4 linked regions of the Homo sapiens genome follow. The protein of the gene in region 3 purifies or fractionates together with the protein of the main gene of each other region. This does not show direct contact. Each region holds a gene or a part of one and is shown on either strand. Other genes may lie near its edges.

Region 1 (7,031 bases), on a different chromosome or scaffold from region 3:
GTTTTAACAAAACCAAAGAACCCCCCCAAAAGTAGGACAAAGTATACTTCCGTGAACCATGCATGAACTAATTTTTTGTACATCCTAACTGATACTTTAAAATTTTTGGCCAGGTGTGGTGGCTTACGCCTGTAATCCCAGCACTTTGGGATTCCGAGGTGCGTGGATCACCTGAGGTCAGGAGTTCGAGACCAGCCTGGCCAACATGGTGAAACCCCATCTCTACTAAAAATACAAAAATTAGCTGGGTGTGGTGGTGGGCACCTGTAATCCCAGCTCCTCGGGAGTCTGAGACAGGAGGATCGTTTGAACCTGGGAGGCAGAGGTTGCAATGAGCTGAGATCGCACCGTTGTACTCCACCCTGGGCGGCAAGAGTGAAACTCCATCTTAAAAAAAAAAAAAAAAAAATTGCCAGTCTGATGCATCTCATTTTAATTTGCATTGCCCCAGTTATTAGGGAAATTGAACATCTTTTTATTATTATTATTATTTTCATAATAGAGATGAGGTCTCACTGTGTTGCCCAGGCTGGTTTCAAACTCCTGAGCTCAAGCGATCCTCCCTCCTAGGCCTCCCAAAGTGTTAGGATTACAGGCATGAGCTACCGTGCCTGGCTGAAATTGAGCATCTTTACTGACAATTTGTTTTGTTCTTTTATGAATTGCTTTATATCCCTTGCCCATTTTATTTCGTTGTCTTTTTAAATTGATATATGCATGTTCTGTTTTTCCAGTAGTATCCTTTGTCTGCTGTATATGTCACAAATTCTTCCCATTCTATGGTTGTCTTAATTTTGTGGGTTCATTTGTCAAACAGAATTTTTTTTTTTAAAAAAAATGGAGTCTCACTCTGTCACCTAGGCTGGAATGCAGTGGCACAATCAGCTCACTGCAACCTCCGCCTCCCAGGTTGAAGCAATTTTCCTGCCTCAGCCTCTTGAGTAGCTGGGATTACAGGTGCACACCACCAAACCCAGCTAATTTTTTTATTTTTGTATTTTGGTGAGGTTGGTCTTGAACTCCTGACCTTGTGATCTGCCCGCCTTGGCCTCTCAAAGAAAGAGCTGGGATTACAGGCGTAAGCCACTGTGCCCAGCCAAAACAGAAATTTTTAATTTTGATGTAGCAAATGTATCAGTCTTTTTTTTCAGTCCCTATTTTTTGTTTCTCTACTGTATTTTCTCATTGTCCTGCAATTACTTATCACTCACCATATAAATATTTGTACCATTACAAAGCTGCATTTAGAAGATGCTCCTAGGACTTGAAGTTAGATTTCCTTTTCAGGACTTTAGTATGATTTTTGAACATTACAATCAGAATGGTTAAGAATGAAACTTTATCCCTCATTTCAACTCTAATTTGGATAACAGTGCTGTAAACTTGGGCTTCTTTTATGAAGAGATTCTTTAAAAATTTTTCTTAGTTATTTACTATGGGAATATGGCAAATTATTCCAGAACTATAGGGAACTAAAATGAATAAGCAGATATGATCTCTGGTCCTCAAAAGGCTTAGAATTTAATTGAGGAGACAAATAATGGACACGAAGCCATTCCAGGATACTCTGGGGTAAATCAAGTCGTCCTGAGAAGTTCTAGAGGAATTCAGGGGCAAAAAAAGGTAGCAATGTGCATATGTGGAAGTGTTTAAGGAAGGGATAAGGTCTGGAAGCAAAGAGACCATGGAGGAGACTTTGAATTCATCCAGACGAGGAGTGATAAAGGCACAGATTTTGGGGGAAATGAAAGATTACACGATGGCTCACACCTGTAATCCCATCTCTTTGGGAGGCTGATGTGGGAGGATCATTTGAGGCCAGGCCAGGAGTTCGAGACCAGCCTGGGCATCATAGTGAGACCCTATCTACAAAAAAACTTAAAAATTAGCCAGGAGTGGTGATATGCACCTTTAGTCCGAGCTACTCAGGAGACTGAGGCAGAAGGATCACTTGTACCCAGGAGTTCAAGGCTGCAGTAAACCTAGGATTGCACCACTGCACTCCAGCCTGGGTAAGGGAGCAAAACCATGTCTCTCAAAAAAAGAAAGAAAGATGACTGGCAGATAGTCAAAATCACTAACAAATAAGTTGTTCAATAAGAAAAGAGGTTGGTCTTTTTGTTCGAAAAACAAAAATACTCATGTTGACTTAAATGTAAACTGGTTGTTTTGATTTCAGTGATTTCGAAGCATGATTGAAGATTAGTATAATTCTGTCTTCTTGGGTAGACCAGTTCTTTTAGACCTGGTGGGTTTTTGCACTTAACTTTTAAGATCAATCATTTATTAAAGCTGTGTTTTTAATAAATAAAAATTATTTGAAACACCTTATAGTTGTGCCTGCATTAGTTGGTTTATTGAATAACTTAGGCAATCTTCCACTTTGACTGAAATGATTAAGATCAGTTTACCGAAAGTCATTTCATCCTTGCCTTGCAGGCATCTGGCTATTCTTGGTGCAGGGCTGATGGGAGCAGGCATCGCCCAAGTCTCCGTGGATAAGGGGCTAAAGACTATACTTAAAGATGCCACCCTCACTGCGCTAGACCGAGGACAGCAACAAGTGTTCAAAGGGTAAGCCTGCTCTCTCTCTTTGCAAGAGTTAGAATGTCCTTTGTTTCTTGGTTAGTTGTTTTTTGTGGTGGCTTGGTGGGTTTTTTTGTTTGTTTGTTCTTGCCATCACGGATTCCTTTTTCCTGAACATAATGAGTTCTAGATACTCCGTAGTGAAGCCAAGTTTCTTTTGATTTTTAGAAATGCCAATTCCTTCTTTGACTTCGTTTTGTTATAGATATCATAGACAATTAACATCCTTGGAGTCTGTAGTCTTTGAATGCAGAAGGGAAAATCTTATCTAGTAGATACTTGTTAATGCCATTTTACACTTTCGTATCAGGCCTGCGGATTTTGATATAGTTTGCAGGTAATTGCTCTATTGTTAAGGATTATTCAAACAGCATGACTGTCTCTGTTGAGAAGACTGAGTGAGGTTAGGATGTAAGGAAATGGGCAGTAACTGCAGGGGGAAGGCAGGGCCGGGATCAGGACTCTTCAGACTTTTATTTCCTGACTGGCATTACAGAGAGAAGCCATGAACTGATCCCTCCACAGTGTCTGGGGCTTTACAGACTATCTCCATCTTACCTCTGAATTAATAAAGGGGGAATATTATTCCCCTTCCTCACCACCTGCCTCTCTCACCATCACACACATGCTGCCTGTTTTGCAGAGGGGAAGGTGGAGCAGCAGCTTGGCCAAATGGAGGGTTGGTTTGATCAGTTTTCTGCTCACATTTAATGGACAAGCTGGCTGCACTTAAAGCATCCTGCATGTGACTTTTAGCTGAGTGAGCTTTTTTGTTTCTTAAATGGATTAGATAGCTTAAGCATGTTGTTATCCCTTTTCTGCAGAGAAGCTCACATATTGCTGCCATAATGCTAACCAGGACCTGGCAGGTTTCATCGTGTTGGCAGATTATTGTAAGATAACAAGTTGTAGTAGAAGATTCTGACCAAAAAAATGATGTGTGCTAGATAGCAGCAGTGCCCTGAAACTAGCATGCAAGCATCCCAAACAGCATTCCATACCATCACCAAAGTAAGAAATTGTTGCTCTAAAATAGTTTCCTCCCCCAGTCTCTCTTGAATAGTGTCCTGGGTTCCCCTTTTCGTCTTAGAAACATCAGGTTCTGGCGAGTGCCGCTCACCACACTGCTGACTTGGGACAATAGTTCCTGTCCTCTCTTGGGAATAGTTTAATCAGGCATTAGAATTAGAGCAACTGATAATGTTTTGAATGCTGACAAGTATCTTGTTTGCTGACTGCTGTCATGATTGTCAAAAACAAAAGCTTTGAGCCCATACTTTTAAGACCTTATTTGATGTTTTTGTTTCTTTTGAGACAGTCTCACTCTATTACCGAGGCTAGAGCACAATGGTGCAATCTTGGCTCACTGCAACCTCTGCCTCCCGGGTTCAAGCGATTCTCATGCCTCAGCCTCACGAATAGCTGAGACTACAGGCATGCGCCACCATGCACAGCTGATTTTTGTTTTTCTTATAGAGACGGGATTTCACCATGTTGGTTAGGCTTGTCTTGAACTCCTGGCCTCAAGTGATCCGCCTGCTGCAGCCTCCCAAAGTGCTGGGATTACAGATGTGAGCCACCATGCCCAGCCCTTAAGACCTTCTTTGAATACTCCTTTGTATTTATCTTGTGGCCTTAATTTTGCTTTTGGTTAAGGAAATTAGTGAATGGGGTTTAGCTTCATTCTTCATTTAGAGGAAAACTGTAGGTAATTTATTCTGAAAGTGTGGTCAGACGGAATCTAAGAGAACCTGTTTCCCTTGGCGACGAAAAATAATCAGTTGAATGTCTGAATAACAGGAATCCTTTTCTGCTCCCTATGGGAAAAAAGAAACCTTGAGTTAATATTTTATGTAATCAGTGCAATGTGCTACTAGGTAATGAGTGGGAAGTAGATGGAGAATATAGGAAATAATGCTTGGTCTCTGTTCTTTAGAAGATTACAACCACAGGCTGGGCGCGGTGGCTCACGCCTATAATCCCAACACTTTGGGAGGCTGAGGCGGATGGAACACGAGGTCAGGAGTTCAAGACCAGCCTGGCCAAGATGGTGAAACCCCATCTCTACTAAAAAAAAAAAAAAAAAAATTAGCCAGGCGTGGTGGTGGGCGCCTGTAATCCCAGCTACTCAGGAGGCTGAGGCAGAGAATTGCTTGAACCCAGGAGACAAGAGGTTGCAGTGAGCTGAGATCACGCCACTGCACTCCAGCCTGGGCAACAGAGCGAGACTCCGTCTCAAAAAATAAATAAAAAAAAAAAAAGATTACAACTACAGAATAACATAAAATTATATATTTGCGATAAGCAAATATAAACCATGTGGTCTCAGACACACTTTGGCTGCTTCCCCTGTCATAGGTAGAGAATTACCAGAACTCCTCTTTTGTTTTGCCATTCTAGTATTCATGTTATTTACTCCTCTTGGCAAATTTAACTGGTTTAAGAGTGATTTAGTTTACGTAAATTGGGCATTTGGAGGCATTCTATGGTAGAAAGAATGTGTACTTGGGAGTTAACATGTCTTTGAATGCTAGCACCCTCCCTTATCAAGCTATTTGACCACAGGTCCCTCTAAGACTAAACAACTTGAAAGTCTCCCTCAAAATGGGAGTAATAGAATAACTACCTCACAGAGTTGGTGAAAAACACAGGTGTGCTCTGGCCCATGGACATTCAATAAACGTTAGTTTCCTTTTCTTCCCATCTAACTAGGAATGTGTTTTTTCTAGATTGAATGACAAAGTGAAGAAGAAAGCTCTAACATCATTTGAAAGGGATTCCATCTTCAGCAACTTGACTGGGCAGCTTGATTACCAAGGTTTTGAAAAGGCCGACATGGTGATTGAAGCTGTGTTTGAGGACCTTAGTCTTAAGCACAGAGTGCTAAAGGAAGTAGAAGCGGTAAGCAAGGGGCTGTTGTACTTGAATCCTAGTGTAGTGAACAGAAAACACAGAGATTTTTTTTTTAAAGGAGCTATAGGAAACTCATGATTGCTTTTATAAAAAGGACTATTCAAAGGCTGGGCATGGTGGCTCACGCCTATAATCCCAGTAGTTTGGGAGGCTGAGGTGGGCGGATCACGAGGTAAGGAGTTCGAGACCAGACTGGCCGATATGATGAAACCCCATCTCTACTAGAAAATACAAAAATTAGCCGGGCATGGTGGCACACACCTGTAGTCCCAGCTATTTGGGAGGCTGAAGCAGGAGAATCACTGGAACCTGGGAGGCAGAGGTTGCAGTGAGCCGAGATCACGCCACTGCACTCCAGTCTGGGTGACAGAGCGAGACTCCATCTCCAAAAAAAAAAAAAAGACTTTTTGTTATCAAACGTTAAGTTTTTATGTGTGCTCATGCACACTGCATATGTTATAAAGGTCAAATCTAAATTCTAAAGGAAGAAAATGAGGGTGCGTTCACCTTATTCATGTAGGAGCTCTGTCACCCAAACATACAGATAACCTCACAGAGTATAGCCAGATGCTTTGAGATTTTTTGGTTAGCCGAAAGCCAAAAACAAACCTCTTCAGGTCTAAGGCTGCAAAGGAAATAGGGAAGACAGTTCGTCCAGATGCTTGTTCTGTGGAAATGCTGCTTTGGCCCAGCTCCCAAATGTTCTCCATAGGCACTTCTTGAGATGGGCTGACATGAACAAAACAAGTACTTGAAGTGGGGAGTAGGAAGAGTAAGCCCCGAGAAGGAGTAATAGCAGTAATTCAGGGATGAGGTAGGACCAAGGCCTAAGCTAGTCTACAGTTGGATAAACAGAATGTGGGTTACTGAAAGGTGAACATGAAATGATTCTGACTTGGCAACATGCTGGATATAATGAGCAGTGAGCTCATTACAAAAAATAAGAGTACCACAGAGCAAAACTCCGTCTCAAAATAAATAAATAAACAAACAAACAAACATTATCTTCTCTTATTGCCCATAGAGCTAACAAAACCCATTCCTTGGACAATCTTCCACAGGCATGATCTCTAGACCACCCCGTTTCGGTTGTCCTCTCTAGTATCTTCCTCATGTCTCCGTGTTCTACTGCTGTGTTTACAACTATCTTTTCACAATTCTGCAATCTGGGCAGGGCTCTGCAGAGACAGTGGTGCTTAAGTCCATTGATTTCAAGGCTGGGGTCACTCCTGGGCTGCATTCCGCAGGAAGCTCGGTTGGGGCACCTCACTGCTTCCCCCACATCTCTCATAGTCCATCCTCACTTAGTCGTCTCACCACAACTTCTTTGTAGCGTGGCTGCAGGCTTCCAAGAGAACAAAAGCAGAAGCTACTGAGCTTCCTAAGTTTATTGTCAGGAAGAAAAAAAGATAAATAATTTAAAAAATAAAAAAAGAGGCTACCGGGCCCCACAGGTCTAGGTAGGCCTGGAACTGGCAGGGTAACTTCTGCTGCATTGTGTTGATAAAAACAAGTCACAAGACCAGCCCAGA
Region 2 (7,031 bases), on a different chromosome or scaffold from region 3:
GAACAAGGGACAGGCAGTTCTGTTTGTCCTTCCCATGTCGTGTGGAACAGCCTTGACATCCTAAAGCCAGGGCTCACGACAACCAATCCGGAGGATGGCTCCCACTCAGTGAGGCACACCCAGTGCTGGGCACATGCGTGCACATTTCCACCTGTTGCACCCTCACAGAAATGCCGCGAGGCAAGACTTTTTATGGCTGCACTGCATGGGTCCACGGAACCCAGGGACAGAGGGGCTCGGTGAGCTCGAAGCTCAGCCGCTGCTCACCTCGCTGTCCACAACCCCGTTCCTGTCCCGGTGGGGAGACTCGTAGGCGTCCATCTGCTGCTTGGAGACCTTGGCCAGCTTCTCAGCCAGCTCCCGCCAGCGCTGGGCCACCTCTACAGCCGTGGTCAGGAGCACAAAGTCCTGGATGAGTCTGACCACCAGGCCCTGGCAGTCCATCTTCAGTAGGGCCTGCAGAGGAAGAGGCACACAGCGTGAGACAGTGTAGGGAGTGGGGCAGGCTCTGCTCCCCGCAGAATTCCAGCAGACGGCGCAGGAATGGCCATGGGCTCTCTATTCTCCATGTTCCCTGGCCTACTACCAAATGTCCCCTGAAATCGATCACTGCCAGGATTCACGGGAGAAAAGAGATGATGTGCAGAGCGTGCCAGGTTCACCAGTGTCTCCCTCCAAAGCCCACATCCACCCAGAACCTCAGAACGTGACCTTACTTGAAAATGGGGTCTTTGCAGATAGAATTAAGATGAGGTCCCTCTGGATTAGAGGAAGTCACCAAGGACTGGCGTCTTCATAAGAAGAGAAAGCAGACAGAGAGGCAGAGAGAAGAAGGCCGTGTGAAGACGGAGGCAGAGACGGGACAGATGCGGCAACAAGCCAAGGAAAAGAAGGAGGGTTGAGCCAGTGGGGCTTAGGAGAGGCAGGCCTGCAACCCCTTCTCCCCCACTGCTTCCAGACGGAGGCCACCCTGGGACCCCTGACTGAGACCTGTGGCCTCCTGAATGGTGACAGGACAGGTGTCTGTTGTTTGATGTCCCTTGGTTTGTGGTCATTTGTCTTGGCAGCCCCAGGAAGCTAACAGACAGGGTGAATATGGATTAGAGTTGTCACCACTCCCACTCTCTGGGGACACCAGAGAGAAACGAATGCATTTCACCAAATAGACACCATAGCCTGAGGCCGAGACGGATGGAGGGCGAGCTGGACCTGCTGAGTGTGCGGTGCTGACATTGGCCAGTTAGAGAGCACCGCGGGTAGAAGGCTGGGGGACTCAGGCAGGGACCACCCAGGGAGAAGAAGACAGAGAACAGAAGAGGCCCTGGTCAGAGACAGGGTGTACCACCAAGAACCACGGTGACCAGGAGATGCACAGACCTCCCCCAGGACTGTGCAACATGAGAAAACGGTTTCCACAATTGGTGGGACTGCTCCCACGTCAAAGCTGCAAGAACTTTCTACTGTGTCTTTAGGACAGGGATTACTAACCACAGAGGAAGTCAGAGGGGAGGTAATAGGACAGACAGCCCTGCTGGGACAGTGAAGTCCCAGCTGAGGCTGGAACAACCACGTGGCCGCCTTGGGACTCAATTCCCTCCTAAAAACGGGGGCTGGATGGGACAGGCATTGAACATATGGCTAATATATCTGGGGGACCCCAGGCTGGGGTCAAACTCACACTTCTGGTTTAAAGAAACAAATCAAATTGGCTAGCACAAGACAGCAGGCCTGCTAGTCCTGTACACTGTGCCAAGTCACATGACTGCCACTGGGTGTCATGCAAGCGACTCTGGCGCCATCCTAATTATAAATGAGGCCACACATGGTTAGCGTGTGGCTCTGAGCCAGTCAGGATGACGTCACCAGGAAGGCAGGAGAGCCGCATGCTGGGTCTGATTCTTGTCTGAGTCTCCTCTGCCATAGAAGGCACAGCTCACCCCCACCCTTAAAGCTTTCTCTCATCCAACAATGGGAAAGGCTTGGCTTCCAGGGCACAGTGGCCTGAGGCAGCCCAGAGACGGTTTCTGAGGCTCCCGTGAGCCCCTGGACAGGCGAGTTGCTAAGAGAAGAGGAAAGTCACCAGTCCTGGCGTTCTTTCTCTCTACGCTCTGTTTCAGCACCTGAGGTTGTCATTTTAGGACTCCAAAGTGTGCTAAAAAACAAACAACCCCCCACCCCCGCCAACCACACCGCTGGTACCGGCGCTCTTTGGCCAACTATTTTGTGCCGATAGCAGGGTCGTCTTGCTAGTGCTCATGCGGTCGGCTGGGCTGCTTACTTCAAAGCGAGCCCAGCTGTTTTAGACTGAGCATTCTAATGTACACTTTATGTTTACCTGGGGGGAGTCTAACAATACAAAAAGGTGACCTTTTTGGCGACTTGTGGCATGCATTAGCCAGAGTAGGTGACTCACGATCCTTCTAGGTGGGCCCCCAGCATCTCAATCCATGGAATTTAAAAAGAACCAGGAGCGACAGATCATTCTGATGCCTCCCTAGATATGAGAGGCTGACAGCTGGCTACCAACGAGGCTGGCCAGAAGGGGGTTTGAGGACCTGGTGGCCGTTTGTTTTTGTAGAAGCTACTAGAAACCCAGGGCTAGGCCAGGAGCGGTGGCTCACGCCTGTAATCCCAGCACTTTGGGAGGCTGAGGCAGGTGGATCACGAGGTCAGGAGATCGAGACCATCCTGGCTAACACAGTGAAACCCTGTCTCTACTAAAAGTACAAAAAAAATTAGCCGGGTGTGGTGGCGGGCACCTGTAGTCCCAGCTACTCAGGAGGCTGAGGCAGGAGAATGGCGTGAACCCGGGAGGCGGAGCTTGTAGTGAGCTGAGATCGCGCCACTGCACTCCAGCCTAGGGGACAGAGCGAGACTCCGTCTCAAAAAAAAGAAAAGAAAAAAAAAGAAACCCAGGGCTTGCTGTGAGCCAGACACTCAGCTCCTCCGCTCCCCAGAGCCCCCCATGAAGCAGAGGCTGAGTTCAACCCACTTTACAGAAGAAGCTGAGAGAGGGGAAGTGGGTTTCACACCGAGAAATGCCAGAGCCAGAGCTGCCTCTGGGCACCCAACCCCAGGTCCTCCCTGCTGTGTGGGCCGCAAGGCATCTGTTCTACAGATAAGCACAGGAAGCCTGCAGACCCCAGGCTTGTCCCGGGTCCCACAGCTGGAAGTGACAGGCGTGGAGGCAAATATGCAAACTTCTCAGCACTCGGCCAGCGGCCTTCCCAATTCCATGAGCCCCACATGGAATTGGGAATTGAACCAAATGTAATACCGGTCTGGATTATGCTTCATATCAACTATTTATATATTTCAGAAGAAGGTCTGTTTCTATTTGAATTTGGATATATTCAAAACAAATTGTTTTAAAAAATTAAATGTTGACTAGATTTGTTTCAGAAGATAAAAGCATACACGTGTGTATTCACGTGTCAGGAGGGTGTGTAGTTAGCTGGTAGGCTGTCAGATCCTAATTTTCTTGCTGTGGTGGCAGCCTCGTCTGTGGTCCTGGGAAGGTGTGCTGGACCACCACAGGGTTTGACACGAAGTCACTCAATGTCCCCAACTCAGCTCTTTCGTGGCTACTCAGCACACACCAAGCTAATCTGGCTGTGTGCACAGCTGCCTGGCTCCAAAGTGGCCTCATTTTCTAGGTAACAGAACAGGTCAAAGTCACCTGCTTCTGACTCGAGTCATTCCTGGTGCGAGTGATCAAAACCGCTCTCTCCCCAGGGGAACTGGGCACAGGTCCCCAAGGTCCTGGGAAACACAGGTGTTCTCTGGCCCCTGGGAAGGAGAGCGCCTGGACTCCATCCAGGGGCAGCCAAGGTCCCATTTCCATGGATCCCAGATGAAAGGAGAGGTCGGCACTTCCAACACCAAGAATGAAGGCATCTCTCCCTCACTCACTTACACAACTTTTACTGAGCCCAGCCCTGGTTTAGTTTGTTACAAACCACCCACACCATCAACAAGGCATAACTGATGCATATTTTTAAAGGACAAATTTTGGGTGCCAACCAATTCTTAGCAATAGAAAAATTTCACAGCAGGAGGCTCTAGCTCTATGAACTTGATCCTTGCAGCTTCCTCTTTTTATGGGCACACAGGTACACCAGGAAACACTCGATGGACTGCTGCACTACCCTGGTTTCAACTGGAATTTTGTTACAGTGAGTACACCATGATTTCAGTCAGGGTGACTGAACTTTATAAAGGGACAGATAGTACTTTTGCCTTTGTGGGACACACGAAGCCTGAAAGCCACAGACGATGCAGATGGGAATGGGTGTGGCTGAGTTCCAACAAAACGCCATTGACAGGAATAGCGGGCCTGGCGGCCAGAGTCTGGGAACTTGCTTCAAGAGATATTCTTGTCCAGCCATGGTGGCTCACCCCTATAATACCAGCATTTTGGTAGGCTGAGGTGGGAGGATAGCTTGAGCTCAATGAGTTCCACACCGGCCTGGGCAACACAATCAAACCTTGTCTCTACTACAGACAAAAAAAAAAAAAAATTAGCTGGGTGTGGTGGCACCTGCTTGTAGTCCCAGCTACTTGGGAGGCTGAGGTGGGAGGACTGCTTGAGCCCAGGAGTTCGAGGCTGCAGTGAGCTGTGATCACACCACTGCACTCCCGCCTAGGAGACAGAGCGAGACCTTTTCTCAAAAAAGGGGCGGGGGAAAATACTCTTATAAAGTACAAAGAAATACAATTTAGGCTTTTTTGCTGCATGTTTATTCCATCCTGCTTCCTTCCCAACATGCCCCAAAACTCGAGGGGAAGCCTTCTGCACATGGCATCTGGACAATGGGCCCATCCTCCTTCCCTCTCCCACATTAACAGCCACAGGCTCTGGCTTTGGGGCTGCCTGGGAGGAATCCCTCAGGACCCCATCCAATGCACACTGTCCATCAACTCCTCCTCTTCTGGAGGTTAAAGTGGGTCTTCTCCCAATCCACAGAGAGTCCCTTCACACCACACCAGTCTTTCCCGCCCCAATGCGCCCCATGCACTTGCTAGCTTCCTTATTTCTGTTAGTTTTCAAGTCTCTTTGGGTTTATTCCGGCCCCCACTCCACTCCCAAAACAACCACCCTCCCTTGCTTTGCATCCCACAGCAACTCCTTCCCTTTCTCATAGAAACTTCTCTACAGAGCCCGACACGCCTATTTCCCTACCTCCCGCAACTTGACCAAAACGCCCCTGCTACAGCCATCACCGACGGCTCCAGGTCACCACACCCCACGGCTTCGTTCTTATGGTGGATCCAGGACCAGTTGTGACAGCTCACTCTGGCCCCTTAGGAAGTTCTCCCTGGGCCTGAGGCCACCGTGGGCTGCTTCTGCTCCCATGGCTGATGGCCACTGCCCACGGCTATCTCCAGCTGACTCCCCTTCCTTCCCCACCATAACAGAGACCATGTGCCGAGTGCTGACAGTATCCCGAGAATTGGGAATAGTCTCTTGCATCAAAAGGGCGCTGCTGAATGACTTTTCTGATTCTTAAAAAGCTGGGTTCCCTTTCAAAGGCCTCTACCACTGCCAGACGCTGCCCCTCCTCTTTGCCTGACGGGAGCCCACCGACCACGCAGTGTTTCTGGCCAGTCTACAGAGGATGCACAGCGAGGGTTTCATGTCCCCTGCTTCGCCTCTGACGCATCAGGGGGCTGAAAGAAAACCCTACCCTTGAATCATGCCACTGCCACCATTTTTTGTACATGGGACCCCTGAAGGAGCACAAGGCTTAAATGTGAATGTGCACATTTCTCCTTTCATAAATACTCATGACTCCCCCTACGGCTTATTGAATATGTATATTTGGCCACCAATATCCATAAATTCTTGTTGCCTTTGCCCCTCCCTTGAAGTGTCTGTTTTTGGCTTCTGGCAGGAGGCTCTGCTTCCCAACCTGTCAGAATAGCCACCCACAGGCTGCAACCCTTTATGAGGAATGAGGCTCTCCTTTCCAAATGAACAAACCTTGTCATTCTTCAGCTGACACCATCACGGACAGAGGCTCTGGTGGGAGAGAAGTGGCCAGGACAGAGGGGTGCTCTGAGTGCAGCCACAGCCATGCTGCTGGGAAGGGGCAGGCAGAGGTACGGGGATGCCTCACACACGGACTCTATCAAAAACAGGCACAAAAAGAATGGAAAGAGGAAATGGAACCACAGAACAGAAGCATGGTATGGCCACGTGAGAATGCCTCCCGCTTGGATTCTTAGCCCAGCCCAAGGCCTGCATTCATTCATTCATTCATTCATCATTCATTCATTCATCCATCATTCATTCATTCAATCACTTATCCATCTAGTACCTCAGTGATTCTTATGTGCCGGGGCCCTTCCTCTCATGGGACCTATGTTCAGTTAGAGTAATAATGAGAAACAAGTGCACAAGAACATAAACAAACTTGTTTCTTTTCTTCTCTTCCTTTATTTTCAAGACAGGGTTTCACTCTGTTGTCCAGGCTGGAGTGCAGTGCTGCGATCATAGCTCAGTGTAGCCTCGACCTCCTGGGCTCAAGTGATCCTCCCACCTCAGCCTCCCAAGTAGCTGGGACTACAGGTGCACACCAACACACCTGGCTGATTTAAAAAAAAAAAATTGGAGAGATGAAGCCTCACTATGTTGCTCAGGCTGGTCTTGAATTCCCGGGCTCAAGCGATTCTCCTGTCTCAGCCTCCCAAAGTGCTGGTATTACAGGTGTGAACCTCCATGCCTGGCCAAAACAAACCGCTTCTGATTCAAGAAACACCATGGAGACAGAGGATGATGGAGTGCGCGGGGCTGCAGAGAAGGACGTCCTGGAGAGACGGCATTTGAGCTGGCAGCTGAGGGAGATGAGGAGGTCTGGGAAAGGGAGCTCCAGGAAGAGGAACAGCATAGCATCTGCAGGAGCTGGAGGCCGGGCGAGCTGGGTGTGTTCAGGGCAGGGGTGCACAGAGCACAGTGGCCCCCAGGGTTGGGATGGGTAGGGCCAGATCTTACACGACTTTGTGGGGCAGGGGCAAAGGCTGACCCCGTT
Region 3 (4,923 bases):
AGGCGGGCGGATCACCTGAGCTCAGGAGTTCGAGACCAGCCTGGCCAATGTGGGAAACCCTGTCTCTACTAAAAATATAAAAATTAGCTGGGCATGGTGGTGCATGCCTGTAATCCCAGCTACTCAGGAGGCTGAGGCAGGAGAATCGCTTGAACCCATCAGGCAGAGGTTGCAGTGAGCCGAGATCACACCATTGCACTCCAGCCTGGGGGACAAAAGTGAAACTCCATCTCAGAAAAAAAAAAAGAGTTGGGAGGATGGTTGCTCCTGTGGGTGGCCATCCCTCTCTCTGTCTCCTCTGAACTGGGCTGGGGCTGCACGTGGCCCTTTCCATGCCAACCTTCACTTCCCTTTATCAGCTTAAGTCAAATGAATCTGCTCTGAGCCTTCTCGGAGGATAGAAGAGTCCGGAGGTCTAAAGGAAACATAAAGATGAGGGGTGTGGGTAGATATGAGGCCAGGGCAGTGGCAACTTGGCTGGCCCCTGGTGAAGCTGTCAGCCTGCTCCCAGAGATGTGTGTGAGAAAGAGACCTTTATTCAGCAAACAGGAAGCACTACAGACGCTGGGAATCCCCCTCCCTATGACAGGGGCAGCTCCCGCCCCCTCAGCCCCGTGACTCTGGGGCTGCTCTAGGTGTTTCCTGCATCTGCCCCCTCAGTCATAGGCCTCATCTTCATCCTCTTCCTCATCACCAAAGAAGAAAGTCTCTTGGTCCAGGTTCTCAGACTCATCGTAGGAGAAGCTGTCATTGTCCAGCTCCTCATCAAACTCATCCTGCTGCCACTCGGGCACATCATCCTCATCGTCTTCCTCCTCCTCTTCTGCCTCTGGCCCTGAGGAGGCCTGGGGCCTAGGGAGAGCCACCACACTCAGCCCAGAGGAGGCTGCCATGTCCCACTGCCTCCTCCATGGCTCTGCCCACCCCACTTACTGACTGCCAGGCATGTTGGGTCCTTTTGCCTCCCAGGCCTCTACTGATGGACTCTGAAGACCAACCCGGAAATCCTGGTGAGCAGACAGAAGGATTTGAGAAGGAGGTAGAGGGCATGGGGCCTTTGGACCCAGCATTCCTTCCACTGATGCTCTGGGAGGGCCAAGCTCCTGCTAGGACTGCTCCCCTCCCAGCACAGCACTTCATGAAACACTGCCTTTGTGAGTTCACCCACAGATGGTCTCCAGGGATACGGGGTACCAGGTGAGGCACACGACCCTGTGCTTAAAGAGCTTACAGAATCTATGTCTTTTCTGCCCATGTGACTTACCAGTCAGTAAGCAACCTGAGGACAGGACTCACAGTTTAGACTCAGCATCAGTGCATTAGAGCTGGAGAGAGCCTGGGAGAGCCCTTGCTCCAGTGACCCCAATCCCCTGATGCCCACTCTTAGGATTTCAAATCCCTATCTGGGAAGTACAGTCTGGAAAAGTTCCCCAAGTGATTCTGATAGGCACCTGACCAAATACCCTTGATGTGGGCTAGCCAACCCCTTTATTTTGTAGGAATCCCCAGGAGGTGAAGTGATAGGGTCCAGCAGCATCAGGCAGGTTGGCCCAAAAGCCGGGATGTGCGCCCAGGTCTAACATCCATTCACCCGCTTTGCTGCCTTTCCTTCTGGACTCGCCCCAGGGCAGGGGCTGTGCTGGGACAGGAGGACCTCAACTCCCGCAGAATGCAGGAGCAGAAGGGGTCTGGGCCGGGCAGTACCTGGGCAGAATGCTGCAGGATGGCAAGCAGCCTCTCCTGGATCCGCCGGAGCAGCTCCATGCCCGTGCTGAGGCAGTCGGCCCGCAGGAGGCGCAGGGAGGAGGCCAGGTCTCTGCACCGCAGCAGGGTTTCCTCTGCAGAGGGGGCAGGCACAGAGGCTCCCTCCCTTCTCATTCTCATCCATTCCTTCCTCCAACAAACACCTATGGAACGTCTACCAAGCACCAGGTGCAGCTCTAGACATTCTCATGAAGCTCCCTAGGGGAGCAGGGTAAAGACCAGAAACCAAGAAACATCCACGAACATCTGCGCCCTTGGGCACCTTACAATGTAGGCTTTCGACCTGAGCTTTAACAGCCAGGCAGTGAGAAGGCCATGAAGAATGAAGAGGAAGAGGAGAGAGGGAAGGTAAGGGTGCCGCTTGACCTGTCTGGGAGGGGCCGGGCTGTGCAACAGAGGGGAGGAGGCAGGAGGAGGGCCTGGCTGGCAGGGGTGGCTCACCCAGGAGGATCTGCAGGGCATTGGTGTGCAGCTCCAGGTTCTCTGTCTGCTGCTCCACCACATCCATGTACTCTGCGTCCTGGCTGTAGAAGCTGTACACGCAGGCGTAGGCCAGCACCTGCAGGGGCTCCCATCAGCTCTCCCGCCTGCCCTCTCCTCATTCCCTTCACCCAGGCAAGTCCGATGAAAGCAGCCAAGCCCCCCAGACCCATTTGGCACACCCCTCCCCTGCTCTCTTCCCCCACCCGCTACCACCTTCCGAGCCTGCTCCAGTCCCTGGCAGGCATCATTGAGGAAGGTGAAGGATCTGGGCGGGGGCACTTCATGGATGGCAGACACCCGGTTCCGCAAGTTCACAGCAAACTCCTGTGTGGAGGAAGGTGTATCAGTACCAGCACAGGTGGCGCAGCACCACCTGCCCGGTCAGACCTTCAGCCCACCCCCCTCCACCCCACCACCCCAACCTGCTTCTGCAGGCATCTACCCGCTGTTTCCTCCCGACTCACCCGCGCCTGGTGATGGAAAGTGCACCTCTCATTATAGTCCTGAAACCGCTTCTCCTGGCGAGCTGCCTTGCTTACCTAGCAAGGATACGTTGGGAGGGCTATTGGGTGTTTTGTTTGGACAGGAGGGAGTTAATAAGTGGAAAAGCCAACATTCACGGAGGCCTTTCTACACCTCCCCCGATTATCTTCATTCAGTCCTCATGACTGTGTGGAGTAGGTCATATTATTCACCCCTTTTGCAGAGGCTGTTGAGGCTTGGAGAAGTAAATGAACTTGCTCAAAGCCACATGCTAAGCAGCAGAGCCAGGCTCTAAATGCAGGGTCCCTGCTCTTTCCTGCTCTGCCCTGCTGCCTTCTGAGAGTGCCCAGCCCTCCCCAGCCTTTCTGTAGCCACCTCGGTATGAGAAGTCCTGTTCTGGAGCTGAAGGTCCCTGTGAACAGACTTTCCAGCATCTGCAGGCCCAGGTGGCTCTGTCTTCCCCACAGTGAGCCTCTATCCCAACAGCTAGAATGCTGCACTGCACAAGGAGCCCTGTCTGCCCAGGACCTGGTAGCAGCACCCCTCCCCGACGGCTCTGGGCCTCTGCCCTCCCCTAGTGCCCAGCGCCTTACCATGGCAGAGCAGTTGTAATAGTCTTTGTGATTTGGCTTCCAGGACTTGAGGCAGCGCCAGCAGAATCCATGGTTACATTTGGCACAGGTCATGCTATGGAGGAAGCTGGCTGGTCAGGGACTCCTGCCTCTGGGCAGGGGTGTGCCAGGAATGCCAAGGGCCCAGATGTACCGCTGTTGATGCTGTGGCCTCTGCTCCTGCCCTGATAGTCTCCTTAGTCATACCCAGCCCTGCTGAATGCACCTCTGCTTTTGAACTCCCCCAGTCAGTGTGGACTTACGAGTGGGAGAAGGAACATTAAGATCCAGGAAGTCACCGTGGAGGCTGCCACGTGAGGGGCGGCTGAGGAACCACCCTCTTTTGCTGAGCTTTACACTAAGCCCGTTCCCCCCTCCTTCTGCCAGGCCTCCTCCCCCCTCCTTGCCCTCTGGCTCCCCACAGTACCCCCCTTCTTACTGCAGGCACCCCTCGTTCTTCTCGATGGGAGCCTGACAGCTGGGACAGCGCTTGGAGATGAGCTTGGCCAGGTGCTTGCTCTGCGCCTCCACGCTCATGCCGTCATAGTAGCCACCGTCGTCGACCCACTGAGACATATGGCCACAGCTAGCAGGGTAGTGTGCCTAAGGCAAGAGGGCATGGTGGGGACACAGCTGAGCCGTGAGGGCAGCATGGCTGGTGTGCACAGGAGAGAGGGGAGCAGGCACAGATCACATTTGGAGGGCTCCAGGAAGAGGAACAGAGCTCAACTGGGTGGCAGAGGCTGAGGAAGGACAAGTCACAGTCTGTGTGTGTGGCGGGGTGGGGATATTAAGCAGGGAAGGAGTGTGAATCCTTGCTCAGGGTCAGGGCCAGTGTGGGGCTCCCACCTCAGGGAAGCTACAGTTGAAGCAAGAGGCCCAGCCACACTTGGAGCAGGTGGTCCCACAGCCCAGGCCCTGGCGGCACAGGATGCGGTCGCAGCCCTGGGGGTTGGTGCACCAGGTCAGGTTGGAGCAGCTCTCCACATAGCCACGCAGGAGCGCCTTCTCATACTGTGGAGACGCAGGTGCCACGAGGTGAGGGTATGGCTCTCCAGGATGCCACACCTCCAGGCCCCCAGCACCCCATAGCTCAGCCCACTCCCTGGGGCACACTCCTTTGGCTCTGCACTGGAGCCTCTCTCAGACGAGAGGGGATACCTTGGAGATGACCTCTGGCGAGGAGACGATGGCACGAATGAAGGCTCCGGTGGGCTGGGCGGGGCAGTCGGCAATGGGGCAGGTGCAATTCAAAACAAGGTTCTGCTCGATCCGAGTTGTCAGGTACTCATTCCAGCAAGACTGGGAGGGACAAAAGGAGGGGCTGCTCACAGACAGTGTGGGAGCAGCACAGGGGGAGTGTCCTGGTAACTAAGCTAGCGTCCCTCCTTCCCTTCCCCTCCACTACAACGTGGAAGGCCAGAAACAAGCCTGCCTCTAGATCAACCAATGCTGACTCCTCTCTCCAGCTTTGCTGAGACTGGCCCAAATTACAGTTGTCTTTGAGGATGGGGTGGGCTGTGTATTTGCCTAATCATAATTACTGTTGGGATGGACAAGGAGGGAATGGGTAAAAATAATT
Region 4 (7,031 bases), on a different chromosome or scaffold from region 3:
CTAATCAACAAGATTCCTTTTCTTTTTGTCAGGCAAGTCAGATAATCTCTCAAGTAGGTACAGCCTTTCTTGATTACTAAAAAAATAAAAACTCATACCCTACCCTAAGGCCACCTTCCTGAAGTCTCAGGGCCTCTACTGCTGCTGAATTTTATATTGTAGCTTTTCAATTTTTATCACAAGCTCCTTCAGGAATCAGGATTTAGTTTGTGATTTAGAAAGTTCTGGCCACTGCCTGGGGTCATAGCTATTTCTACCACTTTCCAGATGTTTGCCCTTGTGCAAGTTAATGAACTTTTTTCACCTACATTATCTATGAAAAGTGAAAAATAAAGAGTACTTTTCTTGGTTTTCCATGGTGGCCCATGCCTGGAAGTTACCCCAGCACTTTGGGAGGCCGAGGTGGGAGGATCTCTTGAGCCCAGGAGGTCGAGGCTGCAGTGAGCCATGATTGTACCACTGTAATCCAGCCTGGGCAAGAGAACGAGACGCTCTCTGAAGAATGAATGATATACAGCACTTGGGCAGAATAGTGGTTGTCCCTGGCAGGGGTGAGTAGCACAACGAGGTCAGAATTAACTAGGAAGGGGTATGAGGAACCTCTTGTGATGCTGGAAATGTTCTATATTGATATGGGTTTGAGTAATATAGATCTATGTATTAGTTAAAATTCAGTGAATATACACTTAAAATTTGAACATTTCATTATGTAAATTTTACTTCAAAGAAAAACTACAGACAAATATTTAATCAATGTAATGAAATACATGCTGAAATATTTCGGAGAAAGTATGCTGACGTCTGCAGTTTACTTTGAAATACATCAAAAAATAGACTGACGGAGTGATAGACAGAGGGTGGAGTGATAGATACATGATGAAGTTAGTACAGTAGAATCATAGACTCTAGGTGGTGGGTAAACCAATGATCACTATAAAATTCTTTCAACTTTGCTGTACATTTGAAAAGTTTCACAACAAAATGTTAAAAAAAAATAGCACCTGATACAGAGTAAGCACTAGTCAATGATGGCAAATAGCTATTTTCAGCTGAAGAGGGATGAACGGGGGTTCAAATCACTGAATCTACTATAGATCTGTCAGGAAGGAAAGAGACTGCTACTTTTCTCATAAACCTTCATCCCAAATCACGATTTACCTAATTTAAAAAAAATTTTCTTTGGCATCTTTATATAAAAATGAATTACTAAAAAAAAACCAATTAACAACACATGATTCAGGTAGTTCTAGCTAATAGAGGTGACACATATAGGGAAAGCAATGATCAGAACAGGGTAGAAAGAGAAGATAAAAAGCAAATATAATTTTACTGTATGACAAATCTCCCTCAAATAGTTTTCTATTTATTGAATACTTCTCTATTTATTGAATACTTCTAATGATGTGCTATTTTTAAAAAATCCAACTTCCTAAACATATCTAAAAGGTGCTGTTAACAAATTCTGTTTTAGTGCTGAAAATGCTTCAATTTGTCATGTCTGATGAGGCAATATTAAAATATCAGATGATTTTATACAGCTCATGAGCTATAGGTGGAGGAAACTGAACAAGACACCATATGTACGTTGAGCTCCACAAGGTTAGTTGACTTAGGACCTGCAACTTATCCACCCAACAGGACTAAGTGCTTTCAGCAAGAAAGCAGACGTACAATAGGAAATGGAAAGGGAAAGGAAAGCTGGATGTGGGGTGGTAAATGCTCCTGGGAATTAACTTCAGGTTTCAGAATAATTGTTGGCACTCTTCCCGGCCTTTATATCTGGGTAAGATATTAAATATTGGCTTTAGGTACTGAATATCTGAAACATTCCTTATGCCTTTTGAATATACTCACAGTTTCTTTTCAAATACTTCACTTACTTGATTGTCATTTTCATTATCTTTGATAACCAAATACCTCAATAAATTTAATGAAGCCATAATCCTGTTAATTAAAAATATATGTTACTTACAGTATGGTTTTATATAGTCAACAGCAATCTCAATAAGCTAAAACTTTGGTCATATTTTTATAATTAGGTTTGCCAATAGAAACTATTTCCATTAATATCTTTTTGAGTAGTAATAACTTATCACTGTTTTCCATTTGTTTAAATCATACAATTGTGAAAATTATCATCCTTGTTTAAAGAAAGCCTTGTTATCTTTAATATTTGAGAGCATCATCTCTTGCTTTCTGAATTTTAAGATTACTTTTTAAATGCTTTAAACCATTTCTCAATATCCATTCCAGTATACTGAAACTGAAATTATATGTTCTATATGAAAAAAAAAATGACCTGGAAAACAATAAAACAACAAAACCTAAACACATAAATTACATACACAGATTTTTAGTTTTAAGTCACAAGTGCTGTCATTGCAAATTTCTATGGAATGCTGGGTACATAAAAGCTATCAAATCATAGTGCTGGTCATTCATCTAGAAAGAGGAGGTTTTAATTTTGTTTCTACACATTATCAAATCACTTAAATATGAAAAATCTTTATGTAACTTAATGAATTAGCCATAGATCATAAAATCACAGGAAAAGACATTTTATTACTTTAGGTTCCCTAAGCAGATGTTTCACATTTTATTCTGAATTTACTATGTGAACTTTGGTAATGGTCACCTCACCTATCTGAGTTTTGCAGTAAATCTGTTTCTGCACCCTCTGGGAGAAAAAGTACCAAATCAAGAAGGGAAATCAACTGTGGTCCTGTAAACCATTTGTTGTTACGTGTTCTCTGAAAAGCAAACGAAAAATTGAGAAAGCTTTATAATTCATGTAATTCATGTGTTTTTCTAATACCTTGACACTACAAAAATGAAGAATTGCACATTTAAAATACAGTTTTTAACTTTAATTTCCGTACTTTCATTCACTTTCCAGACACCAGGAACGAACCCTGCCAGTTTGAGAACACTGGTCACTCTGTTTTCCATTTAGAATTACTGAGCACTCAGAAACAGAAGAGACTTAAGTTTCCATTCATTTTTGAGAAGCATATAACAAAGCAAAAATAAGCCACAATATCAGCTCAAAGAGGCCCAGAGTGATGACTCACACCTGTAATCCCAGCATTTTGGGAGGCCAAGGTGGGTGGATCACTTGAGATCAGGAGTTCAAGACGAGCCTGGGCAACACAGTGAAACTCCATCTCTACAAAATCAAAATTCAGCCAGGCGCACTGGTGGACACCTGTAGTCCCAATTACTCGGGAGGCTGAGTTGGGAGAACTGCTTGAGCCCAGGAGGTGGAGGCTGCAGTGAGCTGAGATCATGCCACTGCACTCCAAGCTGGGTGACAGGCGTGAAACCCTGTCTCAAAAAAAACAAAAACAAAAACCAAAACCTCAAAGAATACAATTTAAACTTATAGTTAACTAAATTTCCAAATTCAGAGTTTTTAAAACATAGTAGAAATAGGGGAAAAAATATGCCTTAATAATATTTAAGTAATAGTAATACTAGAGATAGAGCAATAACTCACATTAATGTATTCTACATATGAATAAATATACCCTACGAAATAAATTGGTAATTGACACTTTGGCTATGTTCTTACCTTTAATGACATGTCAATTTGATTTTTGATATTTTGAATAATAAAAGCCTCCACACCTGAGTGATTACTTGTATTCAATAAGCACCTTGAAAGCAAAATTACAATAGATGTGAAATTATCCTGGACAGCATTAGAATTAAATGGTGATAAAAGTTTTACAAATTCAAAGAGGCCATGTGTTACTTCTAGGAATAAAAACCCCACAGTAATGGTAATTAGCAAGGTCATCAACCAATTACAAAGTCACCTGTAATAGTTATTGCTCTCACTAAATGGTAAATTCTTATTTATTTTATTTTACTTTTTTAGACAGAGTCTCGCCCTGTCGCCCAGGCTGGAGTGCAGTGGCACAATTTTGGCTCACTGCAACCTCCGCCTCCCGGGTTCAAGCGATTCTCCTGCCTCAGCCTCCTGAGTAGCTGTGATTACAGGCGCCCGCCACCGTGCCTGGCTAATTTTTTGTATTTGTAGTAGAAACAGGGTTTCACCATGTTGGCCAGGCTTGTCTCAAACTCCTGACCTCGTGATCCGCCTGCCTCAGCCTCCCAAAGTGCTGGGATTACAGGCATGAGCCACCACACCCGGCCGGTAAATACTTATTTATAACTGGATCTTCCAACAAGCCATTTCTATCAAACCAAAATTTGAATATTTTTATGAACATAGTTACAATAATTTAACATGGCAAGAAAGGGCACTAACATAATGGTCTAAAAAATCCCCAAATTATTTCCTGTGAAAGTAGTCCAGTGCTAGAGTAGCTTAATTGCAAAAAAAAAAAAAAAACTAGATATGACTAGCTTAAGAAAAAAAGGGGATTTATTGGTAGAGATACACATAGAACAGAACAGGAAAGCCGGTATAATACCTAAGAATTGAGATTTCATAAACTTGCTCTTACTATCAATAGAAAACAAGAAAAGATAGAATCAAGAGTGTTGGCTGGGCATGATGGCTCATGCGTGTCATCTCAACACTTTGGGAGGCTGAGGTGGGTGAATCGCTTGAGCCCAGGAGTTTGAGACCAGCCTGGGCAACATGGCAAAACCCCATCTCCACAAAAAAATTAGCTGGGCATGATGGCATGCACCTGTAGTCCCAGCTACCTGGGAGGCTGAAGCGGGAGGATCACCTGAAGCTGGGGGGCCAAGGGTGAAGGCTGCAGTGAGCCATGATCACACTGCTGCACCCGCCAAAAAAGAACAGTACTAATATTGGCCAATCCCAGGTAAGACATTTTAGCAAATCCAGCCTGATGCCCAATTTTATCAATAAAGTTTTACTGGAACACACCCATCCCCAATACAAAGTCAAAGTTGAGCACTTGCAACAGAGACTGTATAGCCCATAAAACCTATATTTACTATTTGGCTCTTCACAGAAAATTAATTAGAAAGTTTACCAATCTTTAACTTAGAGAGTTGCTAGAATCTTATCCACCTCAAAGAGCAGTATTAGTAAGCTCTTACTATTAACATAGTGCATAGCCTATCAAAGTTGTAATTCCAGAGCCATCAATTTGAACTGTGAGTAATGGAGATTAGTGACATACATAAAGTTCCAGCAGGAGCATCATCAATCTCAGTTTAATTATTTTTAAGTCTATTTCAAATTTAGAGTATTCCAATTGATTGAACTGCAATATATACTATTAGTCATACAAAATATAGACATATATATAGTATGTCTGAAATATTTGATTAACCCTTTCTCTAGCCATCACTGAGAATTTATAATATGGGTTCCAACCAGAGTTGAATTACATGTAAAACATACCGACATACTATGCCCTAAAACAATTACATGGCATTAACATGACTTTTAATCAACCACACACTTAGCAATTAGCCATGCTTGATACATACCTAAATAATGTATATTTGCCTTGTGAATCCAACTTGTTAATATACAGCTGAAGCATAGCTAAACTCTTTTTCCTCTAAAATGGAACAAACAATATTATTATATAAAATGAATAAAGCTTACCCAGACTTCATCACTATCCATTTTATGCATGTAATACATCCACACTTGTACCTCCTAAATAAAAATTTCACAAATTAAAATTTTTAAAAAGAAAATTAAATTATTTGTCAAATTTTCTCACTGTAACTCATTATTCTTTAGTCACCAAATATTTACATACCAGTGTCTCAATGGGGCAAAGTGTCATTACTTTCACTAAGCCCTGGAAATAAAAAAATGTAAAATTCAGATGTAAACAGATTATACTGACTGCAAACAAACAACTATAATACATCAATAGGATACTAAAAATTCAGAGAAGTGAGGGTAGGAGATTTAAAAGTGAAGTAAATTAATTTTTCCCTAAGCCTTCCATTCCAGAAAGCTAACTACAATTGATTTTTTAAGTGATATTGAGTAGAGTGTCACACAGTGTACTTTTAAAAGCAAACGATAATTTTCAATTATGTCTACAGTGGCAAGAAAATGAAATCAAATCTACAGAAATATAATTTATTAATTAAAAACAATCAAACAATATGTTAACAAAAACCATGTTTTTCTATTTAAATATTAGGAAAACCAGTTCCCACACTGAAATCTAAGGATTTCCTTGGATATCATAACTAACAAAGAGGATTGGGCAAAATAAACCATAGGAGGGAAAAACACAATGTGTATTAGTCTTTCTGGTAATGAGTCAGTGGATGCCTTAGATGGAGTCCTGAGAACTTGAGTTATGAGAAACATAAAGAAGCTTCATTTTCCAAGATCCCTACAGAAATAAAGTGTTAAAAGAAGAAAGTTATGCTTTTCTACTGGATGCTGTGCTATCAATAATGGTGGCCTCTAATAGCTATTCGTGTTTAAATAAATTAAAATTTAAATTTGAAACTTAGTTCCGGCTGGGTGTGGTGGCTCACACCTGTAATCCCAGCACTTTGGGGGGCTGAGGCAGGCTGATCACGAAGTCAGGAGATCGAGACCATCCTGGCTAACACAGTGAAACTCCGTCTCTACTATAAATACAAAAATATTAGCTGGGTGTGGTGGCGGGCGCCTGTAGTCCCAGCTACTCGGGAGGCTGAGGCAGGAGAATGGAATGAACCCAGGAGGTGGAGCTTGCAGTGAGCTGAGATAGCACCACTGCACTCCAACCTGGGCGACACAGCAAGACTACACCTCAAAAAAAAAAAAAATAGTTCCTTAGTCACATTTCAAGTGTTCAGTTTGGCTAGTGGCTTTCATATTGTCAAAGTTCTACTGGACAGCATTACACCAGAGTTTTCAAAGGTTGCAGAGAAAAGAGTGGGAAAGGAATCAGAAAAGACCTTACTTTAAGTTCAGAACAGGCAAAGGGCTATTTTCAATATTAGAATACATATTTTATTTACCTGAGGTACAGTAAGAAAACTCTTGATTTCTAAGTACTGGTAAAGTAGACTATTGTCTTCTATTCTCAATAAACTATTCTCCAGCAGCTCCTACAGATTAA

What was found.
Region 1: the proteins of CUL9 (region 3) and HADHA purify together in Homo sapiens (affinity purification with mass spectrometry; 2 studies listed by BioGRID and IntAct, with this or other methods). This does not show direct contact.
Region 2: the proteins of CUL9 (region 3) and SH3BP4 purify together in Homo sapiens (affinity purification with mass spectrometry; 2 studies listed by BioGRID and IntAct, with this or other methods). This does not show direct contact.
Region 4: the proteins of CUL9 (region 3) and GLMN purify together in Homo sapiens (affinity purification with mass spectrometry; 4 studies listed by BioGRID and IntAct, with this or other methods). This does not show direct contact.

The regions. Positions count from the first base shown.
Region 1 is NC_000002.12:26,199,605-26,206,635, reverse strand, and holds part of HADHA (trifunctional enzyme subunit alpha, mitochondrial precursor), read left to right. Parts: intron 1-2,331; exon of another isoform or gene 2,332-2,439; coding exon 2,440-2,574; exon of another isoform or gene 2,575-4,316; coding exon of another isoform or gene 4,317-4,403; intron 4,404-5,315; coding exon 5,316-5,487; intron 5,488-7,031. UniProt on the Homo sapiens protein: Mitochondrial trifunctional enzyme catalyzes the last three of the four reactions of the mitochondrial beta-oxidation pathway.
Region 2 is NC_000002.12:235,045,987-235,053,017, reverse strand, and holds part of SH3BP4 (SH3 domain-binding protein 4), read right to left. Parts: intron 457-7,031; coding exon 268-456; intron 1-267. UniProt on the Homo sapiens protein: May function in transferrin receptor internalization at the plasma membrane through a cargo-specific control of clathrin-mediated endocytosis.
Region 3 is NC_000006.12:43,220,179-43,225,101, reverse strand, and holds the end of CUL9 (cullin-9), read right to left. Parts: intron 4,644-4,923; coding exon 4,503-4,643; intron 4,356-4,502; coding exon 4,191-4,355; intron 3,945-4,190; coding exon 3,781-3,944; intron 3,418-3,780; coding exon 3,324-3,417; intron 2,810-3,323; coding exon of another isoform or gene 2,787-2,809; coding exon 2,712-2,786; intron 2,572-2,711; coding exon 2,461-2,571; intron 2,324-2,460; coding exon 2,206-2,323; intron 1,839-2,205; coding exon 1,705-1,838; intron 1,008-1,704; coding exon 934-1,007; intron 853-933; coding exon 657-852; 3' UTR 515-656; downstream 1-514. UniProt on the Homo sapiens protein: Core component of a Cul9-RING ubiquitin-protein ligase complex composed of CUL9 and RBX1. The CUL9-RBX1 complex mediates ubiquitination and subsequent degradation of BIRC5 and is required to maintain microtubule dynamics and genome integrity.
Region 4 is NC_000001.11:92,260,983-92,268,013, forward strand, and holds part of GLMN (glomulin), read right to left. Parts: intron 7,021-7,031; coding exon 6,931-7,020; intron 5,760-6,930; coding exon 5,718-5,759; intron 5,612-5,717; coding exon of another isoform or gene 5,558-5,611; intron 5,511-5,557; coding exon 5,437-5,510; intron 3,657-5,436; coding exon 3,572-3,656; intron 2,751-3,571; coding exon 2,641-2,750; intron 1,945-2,640; coding exon 1,881-1,944; intron 1-1,880.